2 separate regions of the Homo sapiens genome follow, and region 1 is linked to region 2. Evidence: fine-mapped expression QTL. A gene starts in region 2. The other region holds a variant in brackets. All regions are shown on one strand. Distances are between the middles of the regions. Region 1 overlaps GZMM (granzyme M). Region 2 holds the start of CDC34 (cell division cycle 34, ubiquitin conjugating enzyme).

Region 1 (9,406 bases), 21 kb after region 2:
GGGCAGAAGTCTGGGGCAGGGGTGAGAGCAGGGAGGGCTTCCTGGAGGAGGTGGGTTGCAAAGACACAGGGAAGGACTGGCCAAGCCAAGGCCTGTGAGGGGCAGCGGCTGTGAGTGATGGCCATGGACAACGGGCACAGTGGGGGCCGGGACTGCATGTGGCGGGTCGTCCACGCCGGGCCAGGCCGCAGCACCCTGATTCCCTCTGTCCCCAGGATGGCCCAGCTGAGGCTGGTGCTGGGGCTCCACACCCTGGACAGCCCCGGTCTCACCTTCCACATCAAGGCAGCCATCCAGCACCCTCGCTACAAGCCCGTCCCTGCCCTGGAGAACGACCTCGCGCTGCTTCAGGTGTGCAGGGACGGGACAGGGAGAACTGGGCACCCTCCTGTCCCCCACGGGTGCCCCTCACCCCCACTGCGCCCTCCCCCCGCTGCCGACCCTCCCCCCGCACTGCTGCCCCTCCCCCCGCACTACTGCCCCCTCCCCCATTGCCCACCCTCCCCCCACTGCCACCCCTCCCCCCGCTGCCGCCCCCCGCCCCCGCACTCTCACCCCCTCCCCCTGCTCACCTGCCCCTTCCTGTCACTCGTAGCTGGACGGGAAAGTGAAGCCCAGCCGGACCATCCGGCCGTTGGCCCTGCCCAGTAAGCGCCAGGTGGTGGCAGCAGGGACTCGGTGCAGCATGGCCGGCTGGGGGCTGACCCACCAGGGCGGGCGCCTGTCCCGGGTGCTGCGGGAGCTGGACCTCCAAGTGCTGGACACCCGCATGTGTAACAACAGCCGCTTCTGGAACGGCAGCCTCTCCCCCAGCATGGTCTGCCTGGCGGCCGACTCCAAGGACCAGGCTCCCTGCAAGGTGAGGGGCGCCCGGGTGGGGCTGGGGGAATGAGGCTGGCGGGAGGGCCGGGGCCAGGGCAGCCGCCGGGCAGGTTCCTGGCTCTCCCGTTCTCTGGGGAGTCCTGTCAGGGGCTGGGGGGCGGGGAAGCACTGGCAGGGGTCCCGTTTCTCAGGTGCAGAAACTGAGGCTCAGACAGGTTTAGCAACCTGCGCAAGACCACACAGCCGGGAAGCGGCAGAGCTGTGACTTCTGCTCCAGCCAAGACGGTCCGGCGGGGGAAGAAGGAGCAGGGTTCACAGGGCCAGCGGGAGATGGGGAGGGGACACGCGTGGGCCGGGAGCAGCCCCTGTGTCTCCTTGAGCCTGGGGATAACAGGCCTGGCCCTGCTCCCCTCGGCGGGCCCTGCTCCCCTCGTCCCCTCAGCAGGTGCAGAGGCTGAGCTGCGGTGTGTCGTCCCTGCAGGGTGACTCGGGCGGGCCCCTGGTGTGTGGCAAAGGCCGGGTGTTGGCCAGAGTCCTGTCCTTCAGCTCCAGGGTCTGCACTGACATCTTCAAGCCTCCCGTGGCCACCGCTGTGGCGCCTTACGTGTCCTGGATCAGGAAGGTCACCGGCCGATCGGCCTGATGCCCTGGGGTGATGGGGACCCCCTCGCTGTCTCCACAGGACCCTTCCCCTCCAGGGGTGCAGTGGGGTGGGTGAGGACGGGTGGGAGGGACAGGGAGGGACCAATAAATCATAATGAAGAAACGCTCAGAGCCCGCCTGAGTCCCAGCCCACCTCTGTCCATGCTGGCTGTGGGGCTTCCGACAAACCTGTTTCCCTCAGCCTCCCGAGTAACTGGGTCTACAGGCGCCCGCCACCACGCCAGGCTAACTTTTGGTATTTTTAGTAGAGAAGGGGTTTCTCCATGTTTGTCAGGCTGGTCTCCAACTCTTGACCTTGTGATCTGCCCACCTCGGCCTCCCAAAGTGCTGGGATTACAGGCGTGAGCCACCGCGCCCGGCCCTTCCCTGTTTTAAAAAGGGAGGTTGTGGATCCCAAGGCTTCTCCCAGGAGGGGGCGGCGTTGGCCAGGACTGGAGCGGTGGCCGGGTCTGCAGGCTGGCAGGGGTGGGCGGCCGTCCTCCCCGCGTGGCTCCTGGGGCTGGGCCTTGAACAGCATCCCAGGATCTTCTTTTTTAGTAACAGCTTTTATCAAGTTACAACTCACATAGCAGATGAGTCTCCCTGTAAACTGCGATTCAGGGGCCTTTGGTACCTGCACAGAGCTGGGCAACCACCACCGTGACATGTCACCCCAGCACCCCGAAAACAGGCCCGTCCCCAGTCACCCCAGCACCCCGAAAACAGGCCCGTCCCCAGTCACCCCAGCACCCCGAAAACAGGCCCGTCCCCAGTCACCCCAGCACCCCGAAAACAGGCCCGTCCCCAGTCACCCCAGCACCCCGAAAACAGGCCTGTCCCCTGTCACCCCAGCACCCTGAAAACAGTCCTGTCACCCCAGCACCCCGAAAACAGCCCTGTCCCCACTGTCACCCCAGCACCCCGAAAACAGGCCTGTCCCCACTGTCACCCCAGCACCCCGAAAACAGGCCCGTCCCCACTGTCACCCCAGCACCCCGAAAACAGGCCTGTCACCCCAGCACCCCGAAAACAGGCCTGTCCCCCTGTCACCCCAGCACCCCGAAAACAGGCCTGTCCCCACTGTCACCCCAGCACCCCGAAAACAGCCCTGTCCCCACTGTCACCCCAGCACCCCGAAAACAGGCCCGTCCCCACTGTCATCCCAGCAGCCCGAAAACAGGCCTGTCCCCACTGTCACCCCAGCAGCCCGAAAACAGGCCCCATCTCTATCACCCCAGCACCCCAAAAGGAAGCCCCACCCCCATTGTCATTCCAGCACCCCGAAAATAGACTCTGTCCCCACTGTCACCCCAGCACCCCAAAAGGAGGCTCGTCCCCATCGGCCGTCACTCCCCGTCCCCACCCCAGCCCCGGTGCCCTCACATCCCCTCCCTGTCTCTGGATGGGCCTGTGCTGACATTTCATGGACAGGGGATCACGCTGCGTGGCCTTCTGTGTCTGGCGTCTCCCGCTGAGCGTGACGTCCTCAAGCTGCACCCGCGCGCTGGCTGGGTCCGAGCCGTGCTCCTGCTCCGGGGGGTCGAGCTCCAGCTCGAGGGGGGCCTCGCTGCGTTTGTGGGTGCGTCCCTGGGTGCACATCTGGGCGGCTTCGTCTGCGTCCGTCCGTCTGAAGCTTTGCTGGGAGCCGCCTGTGTGCGTTTTCGTGTGGACCTACCTGCTCCTTCCTCCCTCCAGATTAGACCCGTGGGAGTGGCATCTCGGGCTGTTCAGTGACTCTGTTTCAGCGCCGCGCTGTTTTCCTGCAGAATCTTTTAATTTCACTACCAACTCTTTCTTTCTTTTCTTTTCTTTCTTCCCTTTCTTCCCCTTCTTCTCTTTCCCTCCCTTCCCCTTCTTCTCTTTCCCTCCCTTCCCCTTCTCTCCCCTCCCCTCCCCTCCTCTCTCTTTCTTTCTTTCCTTTCTTTCCTTTCTTCCCCGTCTCCCCTTCCCCTCCCCTCCCCTCTCCTCCCCTCCCCTCTCCTCCCCTCCTCTCTTTCTTTCTTTCTTTCTTTCTTTTCTTTTCTTTTTTTCTTTTATTTTCCTTTCTTTTCTTCTGATGGAGTCTCAGTGCGTCACCCGGGCTGGAGTGCAGTGGCACGATCTCGGCTCACTGCAAGCCATCTCAGGTTCAAGCGATGCTTGTGTCTCAGCCACCTGAGTAGCTGAGGGATCACAGACGTGCACCACCACGCCCAGCTAACTTTTTTTGTATTTTTAGTAGAGACTAATAGAAACACAGGTTTCACCACGTTGACCAGGCTGGTCTTGAACTCCTGACCTCAGGTGACCCGCCCACCTCGCCCTCCCAAAGTGCTGGGATTACAGGCATGAGCCACTGTGCCCACGTTAATGGTTTTTTATTATTTTATTTTATTTTTAGACAGTTCCCACTCTGTTGCCCAGGCTGGAGTGCAGCCTCAGCCTCCCAAGTAGCTGGAATCATAGGGGTCCACCACCAAGCCCAGCTAATTTTTTTGGATTTTTACTAGAGACGGGGTTTCACCATATTGGTCAGGCTGGTCTCGAACTCCTGACCTCAAATAATCCACCCGCCTCGGCTTCCCAAAGTGCTGGGATTACAGGTATGAGCCACTGTGCCCGGCCGGGTTAGTGTTGTAATAGACTTAATTTTTAAAACCATTTTTGGTCTGCAGGAGATGTGTGGCGGCTGTATCCACAGGGTCCCCCGCGTCCCCGCCCCCAGGCTCCTGGCCGCTCCCCTCTCCAGTCAGCAGGAGTCACGGCTGACGAACTCACATGAATGCGTGATTAACTACTAAGGACCTACTCTTGGCTCGGATTTCCTCAGTTTCCCCTAATGTCTCTTCCTGCACAGGGTCCCACCCGGGACCGAACCTGCCGTTTCGCCGCAGCCTCTCCTCGGCACCCCCAGGCTCCGACCGTTTCTCAGAACTCCGTGTCTGGAGGCCGGCTGGACGGGATTTATGTAGATTACGGGTGTGGACCACTGCACCCGCCAGCTATCTCATGTTTTTCTCTCGATTGGACTGGAGTCACAGTGTTTTTGGGAGAGGCAAGTGCATTTTTAATCTTTAACTTTTTTAATTTTTTTATGTTATTTTTTTAGAGACTCCTGGGCTCCAGCAATCCTCCCACCTCAGCCTCCTAAAGGATTACAGGTGTGAGCCACCGCGCCCGGCCTAATCTTTAACTTTTTATGGCATCATTGGCAGTGGAAGGTTCTCAGGTCACAAGTGAAGAGCCTCATAACTCACAAACCAGGCACGCCCCTGTTCCCGGCACCTGGGTCCAGACACAACCCCCTGCCCCGAAGCCCCTCCTTAGCCAAGTACCCAAGTCCAGTCTCTTTTTTTTTTTTTTGAGATTCGAGTCTC[G/C]CTCTGTCCCCCAGGCTGGAGTGCAGTGGTGCAATCTCGGCTCACTGCAAGCTCCACCTCCTGGGTTCACGCCATTCTCCTGCCTCAGCCTCCCCAGTAGCTGGGACTACAGGCGCCCGCCACCACGCCTGGCTAATTTTTTAAATATTTTTAGTAGAGACGGGGTTTCACGGTGTTAGCCAGGATGGTCTCGATCTCCTGACCTCGTGATCCACCCACCTCGGCCTCCCAAAGTGCTGGGATTACAGGCATGAGCCACTGCGCCCCGCCCCAAGTCCAGTCTCTAACCCCAGAGATGGGCCCTGCCTGTTTGGGTTCTTTTTTTGTTTTTTGTTTTTGTTTTTGTTTTGACACGGAGTCTCGCTCTGTCGCCCAGGCTGGAGTGCAGTGGTGCAATCTCGGCTCACTGCAACCTCCGCCTCCTGGGTTCAAGCAATCCTCCTGCCTCAACCTCCCGAGTAGCTGGGACTATAGGCACGCGCCACCACGCCCGGCTAATTTTTGTATTTTTAGTAGAGACGGGGTTTCACCAGATTGGCCAGGCTGGTCTTGAACTCCTGACCTCATGATCCGCCAGCCTTGGTCTCCCAAAGTACTGGGATGACAGGGGTGAGGCACCACGCCCAGCCCCTTTGGGTTTTTAAATTGTTCATTCATGGCCAGGCATGGTGGCTCGCGCCGGTAATCCCAGCACATCGGGAGGCTGAGGCGGGCGGATCACGAGGTCAGGAGTTCAAGATCGGCCTGGCCAACATGGTGAAACCCTGTCTCTACGAAAATTACAAAAAAAATTAGCTGGGCATGGTGGTGGGCACCTATAATCCCAGCTACTTGGGAGGCTGAGGCAGGAGAATCACTTCAAGCCGGGAAAGGGAGGTTGCAGGGAGCTGAGATCACACCACTGCACTCTAGCCTGGGCGACAAGAGCGAGACTCCGTCTCAGAAAAAAAAAAACAAAAAAACCATAAATAAAAAATTTTTTAAAAAATGATAAATGTTTGCAACTCTAGCTATGTTAATGTCTGATCAGCACACATTGTATGTATTGAAACGTCACTATGTACCCCATGAATATGTACAATTATTATGTGTTCTTTTTTTTTTTGAGACAGAGTATTTTGCTCTTGTTGCCCAGGTTGGAGTGCAGTGGCACGATCTCGGCTCACCGCAACCTCCGCCTCCCAGATTCAAGCGATTCCCCTGCCTCAGCCTCCCGAGTAGCTGGGATTACAGGCACCCGCCACCACGCCCGGCTACTGTTTGTATTTTTAGTAGAGACGGGGTTTCGCCATGTTGGCCACGCTGGTCTCAAGCTCCTGATGTCGTGATCCGCCCGCCTCAGCCTCCCAAGGTGCTGGGATTACAGGCGTGAGCCACCGCGCCCGGCATGTGTTCATTTTTTTTTAAAAAAAAAAAAGGATAAAAAGGCCAGGCACGGTGGCTCACGCCTGTAATCCCAGCACTTTTGGAGGCCAAGGCTGGTAGATCACTTGAGCCCAGGAGTTCGAGACCAGCCTGGCCAACATGGTGAAACCCCGTCTCTACTAAAAATACAAAAAAATTAAAATTAAAAATAAAAACAAATAAAGAAAAGATAAAAAGAAAGCCAGGCCTCTTGGCAATGAAAGCTGCCCGGGGCAGCCCTCTCCCTCTTCCTGGTGCAGGTGTGTTGCCAGCGTGGATGTCCTTCGTGGACGTGAACTTATTTTACAAAAGAGCACTTGTCCAGAGCTAGTCCTGAGCCTGCGGTTTCTGGGAGTCACCAGCTCGAACGACGCAGGACAAGTACACTTTGGGGTGGCACGTCCTGGTGCTGTTATTTTGGGGTGGGGTGTCCTTCCGTGGTACGGCTGGACCACGTTGCCTCTGTCCACTCACTGCCCTCGAGGGATGGGTGAGCTGTTTCCACCTTTGGCTGCCGTGACCTGGGCTGCTGTGAACTTCGCAGACGTTTGTGTTTCTTTCCCGCACGGAAACTTGGACAGAAGCTCCTTGTCACGTCCCACAGTCACACGGCCCCTGCACGTGCTTAAAAGAAGCTGTGGTGTTTTTTTTTTTGTTTTTTTTTTTTTTGTTGTTGTTGTTTGCTTTTTTTTTTGAGACGGAGTCTCTGTTTCCAGGCTGGAGTGCAGTGGCGCAATCTCGGCTCACTGCAACCTCCTCCTCCCGGGTTCAAGTGATTCTCCTGCCTCAGCCTCCCGAGTAGGTGAGATTACAGGCACCCACCACCACGCCCGGCTAATTTTTGTATTTTCAGTAGAGATGGGGTTTCACCATGTTGGTCAGGCTGGTCTCGAACTCCTGACCTCAGGTGATCCACCCGCTTCGGCCTCCCAAAGTGCTGGGATGACAGGTGTAAGCCACCGTACCCAGCGGAAGCTGCGATTTTCCTTATTCCTTGACATCCTCAAGGGAGACCCTGATGTAGAGGCAGGGAGGCTAGGAAGGAGGAAGCATCCAGCCCAGTGGGGTGGACCCGTCAGAAATGCTCAGAGGCGGCCGTGCATGGTGGCTCACACCTGTCATCCCAGCATTTTGGGAGGCCGAGGCGGGCGGATCACCTGAGGTCGGGAGTTCCAGATCAGCCTGGCCAACACAGAGAAACCCCGTCTCTACTAAAAATACAATGTTAGCCGGGCGTGGTGGCGCATGCCTGTAATCCCAGCTACTGGGGAGGCTGAGGCAGGAGAATCGCTTGAACCCGGGAGGCGGAGGTTGCAGTGAGCCAAGATTGCGCCACTGCACTCCAGCCTGGGCGACAAGAGCAAAAAACTCCATCTCAAAAAAACAAACAAAAAAATGCTCAGAGGCAAGGGTTGAGCTTCCTCTCCAGCCTCCTCCAGAGGTCACAGGGCACCGCCCCACCCCACCCACCCCACCCACTGGGTCCTGGGGTGACTCCAACTGGACAGAGATCAGTGGAGGCCAGGCCAGGCTGGTGTTTGGTGAGCTGGAGCCACGCCCCGGGGAGAGAGCTAATCTCTGAGCCCGGACGTGCCTCATCAGTGGTTCCCTCCTGCTGTGCTGAGATGTCCCCACCCCAGCCCCGGTGAGTGACTGGGGACTTAGAGACACAGAACCAGCCACCAGCAGGAGGCTGACACCCTGTGTGGGACACGCAGTGCCCTGGAAGCCTCCACCCCTCCGTCTGTGTTTTCGTGGTTTTTTTTTTTTGAGACAGGGTCACCCAGGCTGCAGCGCAGTGGTGCAATCCTAGCTCACTGCAGCCTCAAACTGCTGGGCTCAAGCAATCCCCTTCCCTCAGCCTCCTGAGGAGATGGGGCTACACGTGTGCACCACCACGCCTGGCTAATGTTTGTAATTTTGCCGAGATGGGGTCTCAGTATGTTGCTTAATGGAGTCTCAAAGTCCTAGGCTCAAGTGATCCTCCCGCCTCGACCTCCCAAAGCGCTGGGATGACAGGTGTGAGCCACTGCGCCCTGCCAGCCCTCGCTGGTTCCTCCTGGTGTAAAAGGGAACAGCCGAGTGAGCATCTCCGGGTGGCCGGTGGGCAGAGCTCTGGTCTCAGGTGGTTTAAACTGGACAGGTGTCACCCGGGAGCTTGACAGTGACGTGGGACCACATGCTGGGTGACTTAAACAACAGAAGGCAGCCCCTCCCCGTCCTGGGGCCCGGAGTCTGAGGTCAAGGTGTGGGCAGGCGCCGCTCTCTGAGAGGCCCCACGGAGGAGTCCTCCTGCCTTCTCCAGCTCCGGGGGCGCCAGGCGTCCTTGGCTTGTGTCCACATTGCTGCAGTCTCTGCCTCTGTCCCCGCAGGGACGTCTCCCCATGTCTCAGTCCAAATGTCCCTCTTCTGATGAGGATGCCAGCCATTGCCTCAGGGCCACCCTTACAACTTTATCCTAACTACCTCTGCCAAATAAGGCCACATTCTGAGGTTCTGGGTGGGCGTGAGTTTTGGGGGGCACCGTTCTCCCTGGGAAGACGCAGACGCTTGTCGTCCCGTGGTAAATGCCAGAAGGCCTCATCTGATGCCCACGTACGCCCTGAGGTGGGGAAGCTGCTGTCCTCATCCTTGCTGAGCGTGGGGCCCCAGGATTCTCAGGCAGCTGGATGAGCCTGTGGAGAGGCCGGTGCCCAGGCTCGGTCCCAGAACAAAGCGCAGAGGCACGATGGTCGCTGACAAAGTGGGGGCCCCGGGACCCCAAACAGAAAGGTCCACAAAGGCTGAGGTCGGGGCAGGGGAATTTGATTCAAGAGACATTTTCAGCCATACGGCCCTTCTCGAATTTTTTTTTTTGAGACAGTCTCGCTCTGTCACCCAGGCTGGAGTGCAGTGGCGCAATCTCAGCTCACTGCAACCTCTGCCTCCTGGGTTCAAGCAATTCTCCTGCCTCAGCCTCCCGAGTAGCTGGGACTACAGGCGCCCGCCACCACGCCCACTAATTTTATATTTTTAGTAGAGACGGAGTTTCACCATGTTGGCCAGGCTGGTCTCAGGTGATCCACCCGCCTTGGCCTCCCAAAGTTCTGGGATTACAGGCATGAGCCACTGTGCCTGGCCTTTTTTTCTCTTTTTTGAGATGGAGTCTCTCTCTGTTGCCCAGGCTGGAGTGCAGTGGTGCA
Region 2 (9,406 bases):
CCCTGTCCCTCTCCCCTGAGGACCATATCCTCCCACATGCACCCCTCTGCCTTCTGAGAACTGTCTTTCTTCCCTACAAGGCATGAGAGCAGCAAGATGCCATCGTGTAAGAGTCTCAGTGACATCTTGGGCTCCACAGGAAGACCTTTGTACAACTATCTTATCTAACCCACTTTCAAATTAAAAAACTGAAAGTCGGGCTGGGCGCGGTGGCTCATGCCTGTCATCCCAGCAGTTTCAGAGGCCGAGGCAGGCGGATCACCTGAGGTCAGGAGTTCGAGACCAGCCTGGCCAACATGGCGAAACCCCGTCACTACTAAAACTACAAAAATTAGCCGAGTATGGTGGCGCACCTGTAATCCCAGCTACTCGGGAGGCTGAGGCAGGAGAATTGCTTGAACCCAGGAGGCAGAGATTGCAATGAGCCAAGATCGTGTCACTGCACTCCAGCCTGGGCAACAGAGTGAGACTCTGTCTCAAAATAAAATAATAAAATAAAATAAAAAACTGAAACTCATAGGCCAGGCACGGTGGCTCATGTCTGTAATCCCAGCACTTTGGGAGGCCAAGGAGGGTGGATCACATGAGGTCAGGAGTTCCAGACCAGCCTGGCCAACATGGTGAAACCCCATCTCTACTAAAAATATAAAAATTAGCTGGCATGGTGGCACAAGTCACCCACTTGGGAGGCTGAGGCAGGAGGATCACTTGAACCCGGGAAGCAAAGGATGCAGTGAGAAGAGATGGAGCCACTGCGCTCCAGCCTGGGTGACAGAGCAAGACGCCATCTCAAAAAAAAAATAATTAAATAAATAAATTAATTAAATAAACCTGAGACTGGGTTTAATGTTTGAGCGATATTTCCAAGGTCGTGGCAGAAACTAGATTTGAATTTAAGGTTCTTCTCTGCCATGTGATGGAAAACCTAACTCAAACTGGCTTAATTAACGAAGAAGGAATTTATTTTTACTTATTTATTTATTTTTGAGATGGAGTTTCACTCTTGTTGCCCAGGCTGGAGTGCAATGGCGTGATCTTGACTCACCACAACCTCCGCCTCCCAGGTTCAAGCGATTCTTGGGCCTCACCCTCCCGAGCAGCTGGAATTATAGGCATGTGCCACCACGCCCGGCTAATTTTGTATTTTTAGTAGAGACAGGGTTTCTCCATGTTGGTCAGGCTGGTCTGGAACTCCTGACCTCAGGTGATCCACCCTCCTCGGCCTCCCAAAGTGCTGGGATTACAGGTGTGAGCCACGGCGCCCGGCACGAAGAAGGAATTTAACCTGGTTGTGGTGGTGTGCACGTGTGGTCCCAGCTACCTGGGAGGCTGAGGTGGGAGGACTGTTTGAGCCCAGGAGTTCAAGGCCAGCCTGAGCAACAGGAACGGGGGCAGGGAGGGAGGAAAGGAAAATAAACTAAAAAGGCTGGGCGTGGTGGCTCACGCCTGTAATTCCAGTACTTTAAGAGGCCAAGGCAGGAGGATCACTTGAGGCTGAGAGATCGAGACCAGCCTGGCCAACATGGTAAAACCCCATCTCTACTAAAAATTCAAAAATTAGCTGGGTGTGACAGTGCACGCTTGTGATCCTAGCTACTTCGGAGACAGGTGGGAGGATTGCTTAAGCCTGGGAGGCAGAGGTTGCAATGAGCTGAGATTGCGCCACTGGACTCCAGCTTGGGTGACACAGAGAGACTCCATCTCAACACAAACGAACTAAGAGGCAAGAATTCATGAGCTTGCATCATTGGAACATCCAGGGGAGGTCAGGTAACAGCATGATGCAGGATCACTAATAGGATTATCAACGTTTCCCCTCTCATCAGCCGGCTCGGCTTTCCTGTGATGCCGCCTTTGTTCGGAGGCCCCGTGGTGACACCATGACCCCGTAACTCCAGCCCCAGGTCCTTCCAGCTCAGCCACCCCAGCACTGTGATCCCAGAGAAATGTCCCAGAGCTGAATCTCATTGGACGTCAGGAGTCACATGCTTGTTCCTGAACCAATCATTGCAGCCCAGGGTGGGGGCCCTGGGAACTGATGGGATGGCCCCTCCCTGCAGCCAGGGCTTGCGTCAGTCCAATTCGAACCCGTTCCCACAGAGTAGGGAGCCCCCAAGCAGGCAGGTGGAAGCCCCTGGTGTCCACCGCTCCCGGGTGCTGTGAGCCTGAGCCTCCCTGGGGGTCGGGGCCCTGTGGGACCAGCTGGAGGGGCTTGAAAATCTCCCCAACCCAGGCCGGGCGCGGTGGCTCACGCCTGTAATCCCAACACTTTGGGAGGCCGAGGCGGGCGGATCACGAAGTCAGGAGATCAAGACCATCCTGGCTAACACGGTGAAACCGCTTCTCTACTAAAAATACAAAAAATTAGCAGGGCGTGGTGGCATGCGTCTGTAGTCCCAGCTACTCAGGAGGCTGAGGCAGGAGAATCACTTGAACCCGGGAGGTGGAGGTTGCAGGGAGCCAAGATCGTGCCACTGCACTCCAGCCTGGGCGACAGAGCAAGACTCCTTCTCAAAAAAAAAAAAAAAAAAAAAAAGCGAGAGAAAGAAAACCTCCCTCACCCACACAGTGCTTCCTGGGATGTGGGTGTACGGAAGAAGAGAGATCTTGGGAGCCCTTAGAGAAGGAATCGTGGTTAATTCTAATTAGCATTAATTTACCCATGAGCTGCTGCCTGCCGGCTCCATGATGCTGGCAATATATCCACGACCTGTGGCACGGAAGAGACTGAGGCTCACAAAACCCTGGGAACCTTGGTGAAGGGGCCACAGCCAGAAGGCCCCACTAGTCCCGAGACCCTCCTTTTACTCCAGGCCCCCAGGGTGCCGGGCAGAGGGGCCTGAGGGAGGAGGCCCAGAGGCCCTTACGGGTGAGGACGCCTCGGCCTCGGCCCTGGACAGCTCTGGAAGTGACCGCTCGGCCCAGAGCTCTTTCTTGGATCCCTCCCTCCCTCTCCACTCCTGATGCTGTTTTCCTTTCCCCAGACAGGTTTGCCTGCTGGTCCTCTTCCGGGGACCAGACTCATGAAGCCGGGGCCAGGTGTTGGGGCACCTGCGGGACAGAGTGGCCCTGGTCCCAGACTGGTTTTTGTTTTTGGTTTTTTTTTTTTTTGAGACGGAGTCTCTGTCGCCCAGGCTGGAGCGCAGTGGCGCTATCTAGACTCACTGCAAGCTCCGCCTCCCGGGCTCACGCCATTCTCCTGCCTCAGCCTCCCGAGTAGCTGGGACTACGGGCGCCCGCCACCACGCCCAGATAATTTTTTGTATTTTTAGTAGAGACGGGGTTTCACCATATTAGCCACAATGGTCTCGATCTCCTGACATTGTGATCCGCCCGCCTCGGCCCCCCAAAGTGTTGGGATCACAGGCGTGAGCCACCGTGCCCGGCCTGTATGTTGATGCAGCTGTGTGTACCCAGGGCATAGCAACAATGCCACTGGCACAGTCCGAGGGCAGGGCCACCCGTCACGGGCACGACTCAGGGGAGGCTGGGCTGCCCCGTCCTCACCACGGCCAGTTCTCCCGACCAAGCTTCACAGCAAGGAGCATGTGGGTGTCTGGGCAGCCACTGAGCCAGGTCAGAAGTCAGGTGGGGTCACAGTGATGCCCGGAATCAGCTGGGGTCAAGACTCAGGTGGGCTGGGCGCGGTGGCTCATGCCTATAATCCCAGCATTTGGGAGGCCGACGCAGACGGATCCCTTTATTAGTCCAAACTGCATCCTCCCCTTCCTTTCAAAACCTAACAACACACTTGAGGTCAGGGGTTCGAGACCAGCCTGGCCAACATGGTGAAACCCCATCTCTACTTAAAATACAAAATTAGCCGGACGTGGTGGCGGGCACCTGTAATCTCAGCTACTCGGGAGGCTGAGGCGGACACTAGCTTGAACCCGGGAGGCGGAGGTTGCAGTGAGATTGTGCCACTGCACTCCAGCCTGGGCCACAGAACGAGACTCTGTCTCATTTAAAAAAAAAAAAAAAAAAAAGACTCGGGTAGGACAAAGGTCAGGCTGGGAGGAGGGCACAGCCAGGCTCGGGCTCAGCTTGGGGTGGGGGCTCCGTGGGGCTGGCGCCTCTCCCGGGTCAGGTGCTGAGCCGATGCTGGCCGGCGTAGGCCTCTTTCCCAGTTTCTCTGGGGGGCAGGAGCACCTTGCCAACCTCTGATGGCTCCAGCGCCTGCACTCGCCTCACACCACATGGTGACTTCAACGGGGACCAGGGAAGCCCTCGCCCCTCCCACCCCTCAGAGCCCTCCCCGACCTCGCCCACTTCTCAGAGCTCCCGCTGTCGGGGGAACCGAGGCAGCGCCGCGCCTGGAAGCCAGGTCTGCGGATCCCGCCTCGCTCCCGCCCCTTCCTCCCTTCCGCGTGGCCAGCGCGACCCTAGGACAGACTTCGCGCCCGTCCCCTGCACAGACGGGGAAACGGAGACGGGGACGCGGGGTCGCGCCGGATGGACCGGCCCTGCCCCTCCGGTCCCGGTCAGGACCCCGCGCCGCGCCCCGTTCACCGCCCGCGGCCCCGCCCCGCGCCGGCACGTCACAAAACAACCCCAAAGCCGGGGGACCGGGCCGGTGACGGCGCAGAGCAGCCCTGCCCGCCTCCTTGCGCACAGCGTCCGCGGTGCTGGTCGAGCAGGGGGCGACGGCGGCGGCCTCGGGGATCGGAAGAGCCCGGGGCTGCGCGCTCGAACCCTCCCTCCCGGCGGAGGCGCTCGGCGCCGTAGGCGGGACCGGGGCCGGGACTCCACCTCCCGGCGTCCCCTGCGGCCGGGCGCGCAGGCGCAAGTCGGACCTGGCCGCGGAGCGCAGGCGCAGTCGGGGCCAGGCGGTGCGCGCAGGCGCAGCGGGGGGCGGGGCGCGCGGGCCCGGCCAAGGCAAGCGCCGGTGGGGCGGCGGCGCCAGAGCTGCTGGAGCGCTCGGGGTCCCCGGGCGGCGGCGGCGGCGCAGAGGAGGAGGCAGGCGGCGGCCCCGGTGGCTCCCCCCCGGACGGTGCGCGGCCCGGCCCGTCTCGCGAACTCGCGGTGGTCGCGCGGCCCCGCGCTGCTCCGACCCCGGGCCCCTCCGCCGCCGCCATGGCTCGGCCGCTAGTGCCCAGCTCGCAGAAGGCGCTGCTGCTGGAGCTCAAGGGGCTGCAGGAAGAGCCGGTCGAGGGATTCCGCGTGACACTGGTGGACGAGGGCGATCTATACAACTGGGAGGTGGCCATCTTCGGGCCCCCCAACACCTACTACGAGGGCGGCTACTTCAAGGTGAGCGCGGCGACCCCCGCCCGGGTCCCGGAGCCCACGAGCGACCTCGGGCGCCGGGAACCAGCTCCCTGCCCCGCGGTCCTAGCGCTGTTGCTGGGCGGGCCCCGAAGCCTCCTGGCTTGGGCTCGTTTCCCTTCTATGGCCACGTTCCCCCACCCAGCTCTGCCCGGCCCCCTCCTCGGACCGTCTCGGGGACCTTCAGCCTCTGCTGCAGTCCTCGAAAATCCCCAGTTCCCTTCAAGGCATCGTCCGGTCCCCTGTTAGGCTCTTGGCCCCCGGAGGGGTGGCCGGGGGCCCTCCCTGTAGCATCTGGGCGTGGGGCTCTTGCCCACCTCCTCCTTGGCGGGGGCTGGACCCCGGCTGCCTCCCCCTCCGCCCCTGCGAGAAAGAGGGAGCGGAGCCCAGGCCGCGCCGGCCTTTCAGCTGCCCTCCCCGCCCTCCCCGGAGGAGACAAAGAGGCCCCCCCAGACCCCGTAGCTGCTATTGTTGGGGAGCTGGGCCCGTGAGCGGGGGAGCGAGGCCAGCCTGGGGGTGGCTGGCGCGGCCACTCGCTCAGTCTCCAACAAAGGCCCGGATGAGCCTTGGCAGCCAGGACCCGCCTGGAAAGCGGCCACCCTTGCCAGTAGCAGCCGGCCAGGCGCCCTGGGCTCCATCCCCTGCTTTATGTAACCTGCGCCCTCGGGAAGGCCGAAGTAGGGGCGTGCCTCCCACCTGCTCCCTGCAGCTCTCTCCAGGCCTCCCGGCTCGGGCCCGCGTCCCGGACCCCGACCTCAGAAGCTCCGGGCTCGCTCATCCCAGCTGGTCTTGGCCTTTCTCAGAGTCCACTGAACAGGTGGCTTCTTGGGACCCAAACCCCGAGTTCTGGGCCGTTTCTTCTGCCCTCTGGCGGTTTAATTCCAAGCAGTTTCTGGATGTTTTTGTTGTTGTTGGGAGCGGGGAGGCTGTTTCTGTCTCATGTGAAAAGGACTCAGGCCAAAACCAGGGCAGTTTTCTTGATCTCACGATCCAGACGTGACCTTTGACTTCTTTTAGCGTTCAGGGACCTCGTTCTTGGGGCCAGAGGGACAAAGCGAGGGGCCCTGTGTGAGCGGTGGGGAACGAGCACCCTGTCCAGGAATCTCCCCCTCCCACCGTCACTTCCTGCCAAGAGCCTGGACACGACACGACACTGCAGGGCCCGGCCCGCTCTGCCCCGGCCAGCTGCGGGCGTGGGGCCGAGGGACCGATGCCTCCCGCACGATATGTGTCTGCTCTCCGAGCTAATTAGTGTCTGAACCGCACCCGCTCAGCGGCTGTGAGGGCAGCAGCCTGGTCTGCTGGGGGCGATTCCTGAGCAGAGAGTGGGACGCCCGTGGGTTCTGCATCTGGAATCCTGCGTCCCCACACAGGGAACAGAGTTTGGGTCTCGAGGTTGCCAAATGGTTTTAGCAGCTCCTCCGCCAGCCCCTTCTGTCTGCTTGGGGGAGCAGCTGGCTGAGGAGCCGCAGCCCCACCTCGAAGCCAGGCCTGTGAGGCGGCTGCTGTTCTGGAAGGAGGGGATGGGGGTTTCTGGCTGCTGTGCCCACCAGACCGGTTGCCAGGGATTGTGGGCAGAGCTTCCTGGGCCAGCATTAGGGGATAATCCGGTTTTCCGGATTTCCCAGGGAGGGGGCCTCTAGACATCTGCCACAGGGTCAGTCCTCAGAAGCCAGTGTTGAGACGGGGGTGCTGCCACCCACGAGGACTCTCCCTTCCCGCTGTGCCTGGGAGGGAGTTGGGGGAGCGTGGAAATACAGAACCTGCTGAGTGCCCAGGGCCGCTGCTGCCCAGCCACTGCCTGCAGCTGCTGTTCCTTCAGGAGCCAAAGTGAGCCCTGGGGCAGGGGCCGCCAGAGAGAGCCCTCCACAGCCGACTTGCTGTCTGCCCTTGGCAGGGCGCTTTCCTTTTCTGAGCCTGGGTTTGCTCCGGGGAAAAGACATTCTTAGAGGTGCCCAAAATAAGAGGCTCATTGGGACTTGGTGGGGTTTGGTACAGATGAGGCCTTGGCTGTTGTCAAGGATTGCCGCCTGAAACCCAGCACCAGGCTTGGGGGGCCTGAAGTCTTGGGGAACCGCAGGACAGTTCTGAGACTGAAGTTCCAGCCTTGCTCTGTGGCCGCGGCCAAGTCACTTGCCTTACGGGGCACCAGTGAGTTCCCTGTCAAACAGAGGACACCCCCCAAGACACCCCGCGTGCCCTCCCTGTCCAGGAGGGGCCCGTCCACGATCCAAGACCCCCAAAGTGCCCTGCCTGTCCGGGAGGGGCCTCGCCCACAATCCAAGACCCCCGAGTACCCTCCCTGTCCAGACCTCGCCCACGATCCAAGACCCCCTGAGTGCCCTCCCTGTCCAGACCTCACCCACGATCCAAGACCCCCTGAGTGCCCTCCCTGTCCAGACCTCGCCCACAATCCAAGACCCCCGAGTACCCTCCCTGTCAAGGCCTCGCCCACGATCCAAGACCCCCGAGTGCCCGCCCTGTCCAGACCTCGCCCACGATCCAAGACCCCCGAGTGCCCTCCCTGTCCAGACCTCGCCCACGATCCAAGACCCCCGAGTGCCCTCCCTGTCCAGACCTCGCCCACGATCCAAGACCCCCGAGTGCCCTCCCTGTCCAGACCTCGCCCACGATCCAAGACCCCCGAGTGCCCTCCCTGTCCAGACCTCGCCCATGATCCAAGACCCCCGAGTGCCCTCCCTGTCCAGACCTCGCCCACGATCCAAGACCCCCTGAGTGCCCTCCCTGTCCAGACCTCGCCCACGATCCAAGACCCCCTGAGTGCCCTCCCTGTCCAGGCTTCCACCACGATCGCTCTGGGGGTGCTGCTCTCGTGCCTTGGAGTGCTGAGTGCCACCAGGACCCCTGACCCAGACAACCTCTGTGTCTGGCACTGGGGCCCAGCAGGAAAACAGTGAGGCTTCCTTGTTTACCTGCTGTGGCCCAGGAGGGCCGTGGGTGGCATCACGCCCCAGGCTGCAGGCCAGACAGCTCTGTCACCTGGCACGTGGCTTCAGGCCTCCCTCTGTGGCCGTCCTTGCCAGCAGATCTGGACCTCCAGGGCCTGGGTGACCACAGGGGGCGATGCTGACAGGGAAGGAGTCCTGCCAGGTTTCTGTGACCTATGGGTCTGCCTGCCTGACCCCCCAAGACCGGACACCTGAGGGCAGACGGCCATACTGACTCATCCCCTCCCACGGCCTGGGCCAGGGCAGGTGTCACAAGTGTTTGCTAACTGAGCAATCATCTGTGCTAACCCTCCCCACACCCTGGCTGCCAAGGCCCTGGAGGTGCAGCCCTGGTCCTGGGCTTCAGCTCCATCCAAGGGGAGCCTGGAGCCCCTGCCAGTCCATTCTGTCTGCTGGTGGGTGCCCCTGGCCTGGGTCCCATATGCCTGACCTGGGCTGCCACGGGCCTGGAGCCACGCGGGCAGCCAGTGCCCACGTTCCCCAGCAGTTGTGCTGGGCCGGGTCCCGGCCACCTGGACTGTGTAGGAGCTGGGATCAGCTCGGGTGACTCAGAAAAGGCTTCAGGCAGCCTTCTGGGGACTTGACCCCAGGCCTGTGAGAGTCCCTGCCTTGGGCAGGATACGGTGTCCCTCACACACACCCTCAGGCACCAGCACTGGGAGTGGGATGGCCTTGGGCACCTTGTGAGCTGGGGCAGGTCTTGGGGCTGGGCTGGACTGAGCCACCTGCCTTCTGCCCCTGCAGGCGCGCCTCAAGTTCCCCATCGACTACCCATACTCTCCACCAGCCTTTCGGTTCCTGACCAAGATGTGGCACCCTAACATCTACGAGGTGAGCGCGGCCCCCACGGGCCTCAAGTCCTCATCCTCCGGGACCCAGGGTGCTGGGAGCCTCACGTCCTCATCCTTCCGGGACCCGGGGCGCTGGGAGCCTCACGTCCTCGTCCTCCGGGACCCGGGGCGCTGGGAGCCTCACGTCCTCGTCCTTCCGGGACCCGAGGCGCTGGGAGCCTCATGTCCTCGTCCTTCCGGGACCCGGGGCGCTGGGAGCCTCACGTCCTCGTCCTCCACGTCCTCATCCTCCGGGACCTGGGGCACTGGGAGCCCGTGCTGACCTCTGACCTGTTCTGACCTGTCTTCTTCTTGTGCAGACGGGGGACGTGTGTATCTCCA

The links. PIP is the estimated chance that this variant, and not a neighbour inherited with it, causes the effect.
Region 1: its variant is fine-mapped to the expression of CDC34 in whole blood (TOPMed, PIP 0.92).

What each region holds. Positions count from the first base shown.
Region 1 is chr19:548,327-557,732 of GRCh38, forward strand. It overlaps GZMM (granzyme M), which reads left to right. Exons shown (of 5, transcript NM_005317.4): 3 at 216-351; 4 at 596-859; 5 at 1,304-1,596. The coding sequence ends at 1,465. Among named protein-coding and RNA genes, the nearest start is that of GZMM, 9.0 kb to the left of the region's middle. RefSeq lists a cis regulatory region at 7,436-8,674. The variant G/C (reference allele first, on the strand shown) is at 4,821.
Region 2 is chr19:526,859-536,264 of GRCh38, forward strand. CDC34 (cell division cycle 34, ubiquitin conjugating enzyme) reads left to right here and starts at 4,902. Exons shown (of 5, transcript NM_004359.2): 1 at 4,902-5,250; 2 at 8,979-9,065; 3 at 9,385-9,406. The coding sequence starts at 5,074. RefSeq lists silencers at 4,407-5,146, 5,567-5,736, 8,861-9,022 and enhancers at 4,943-5,599, 5,997-6,046, 6,117-6,276, 7,259-7,835, 7,836-8,411 and 3 more.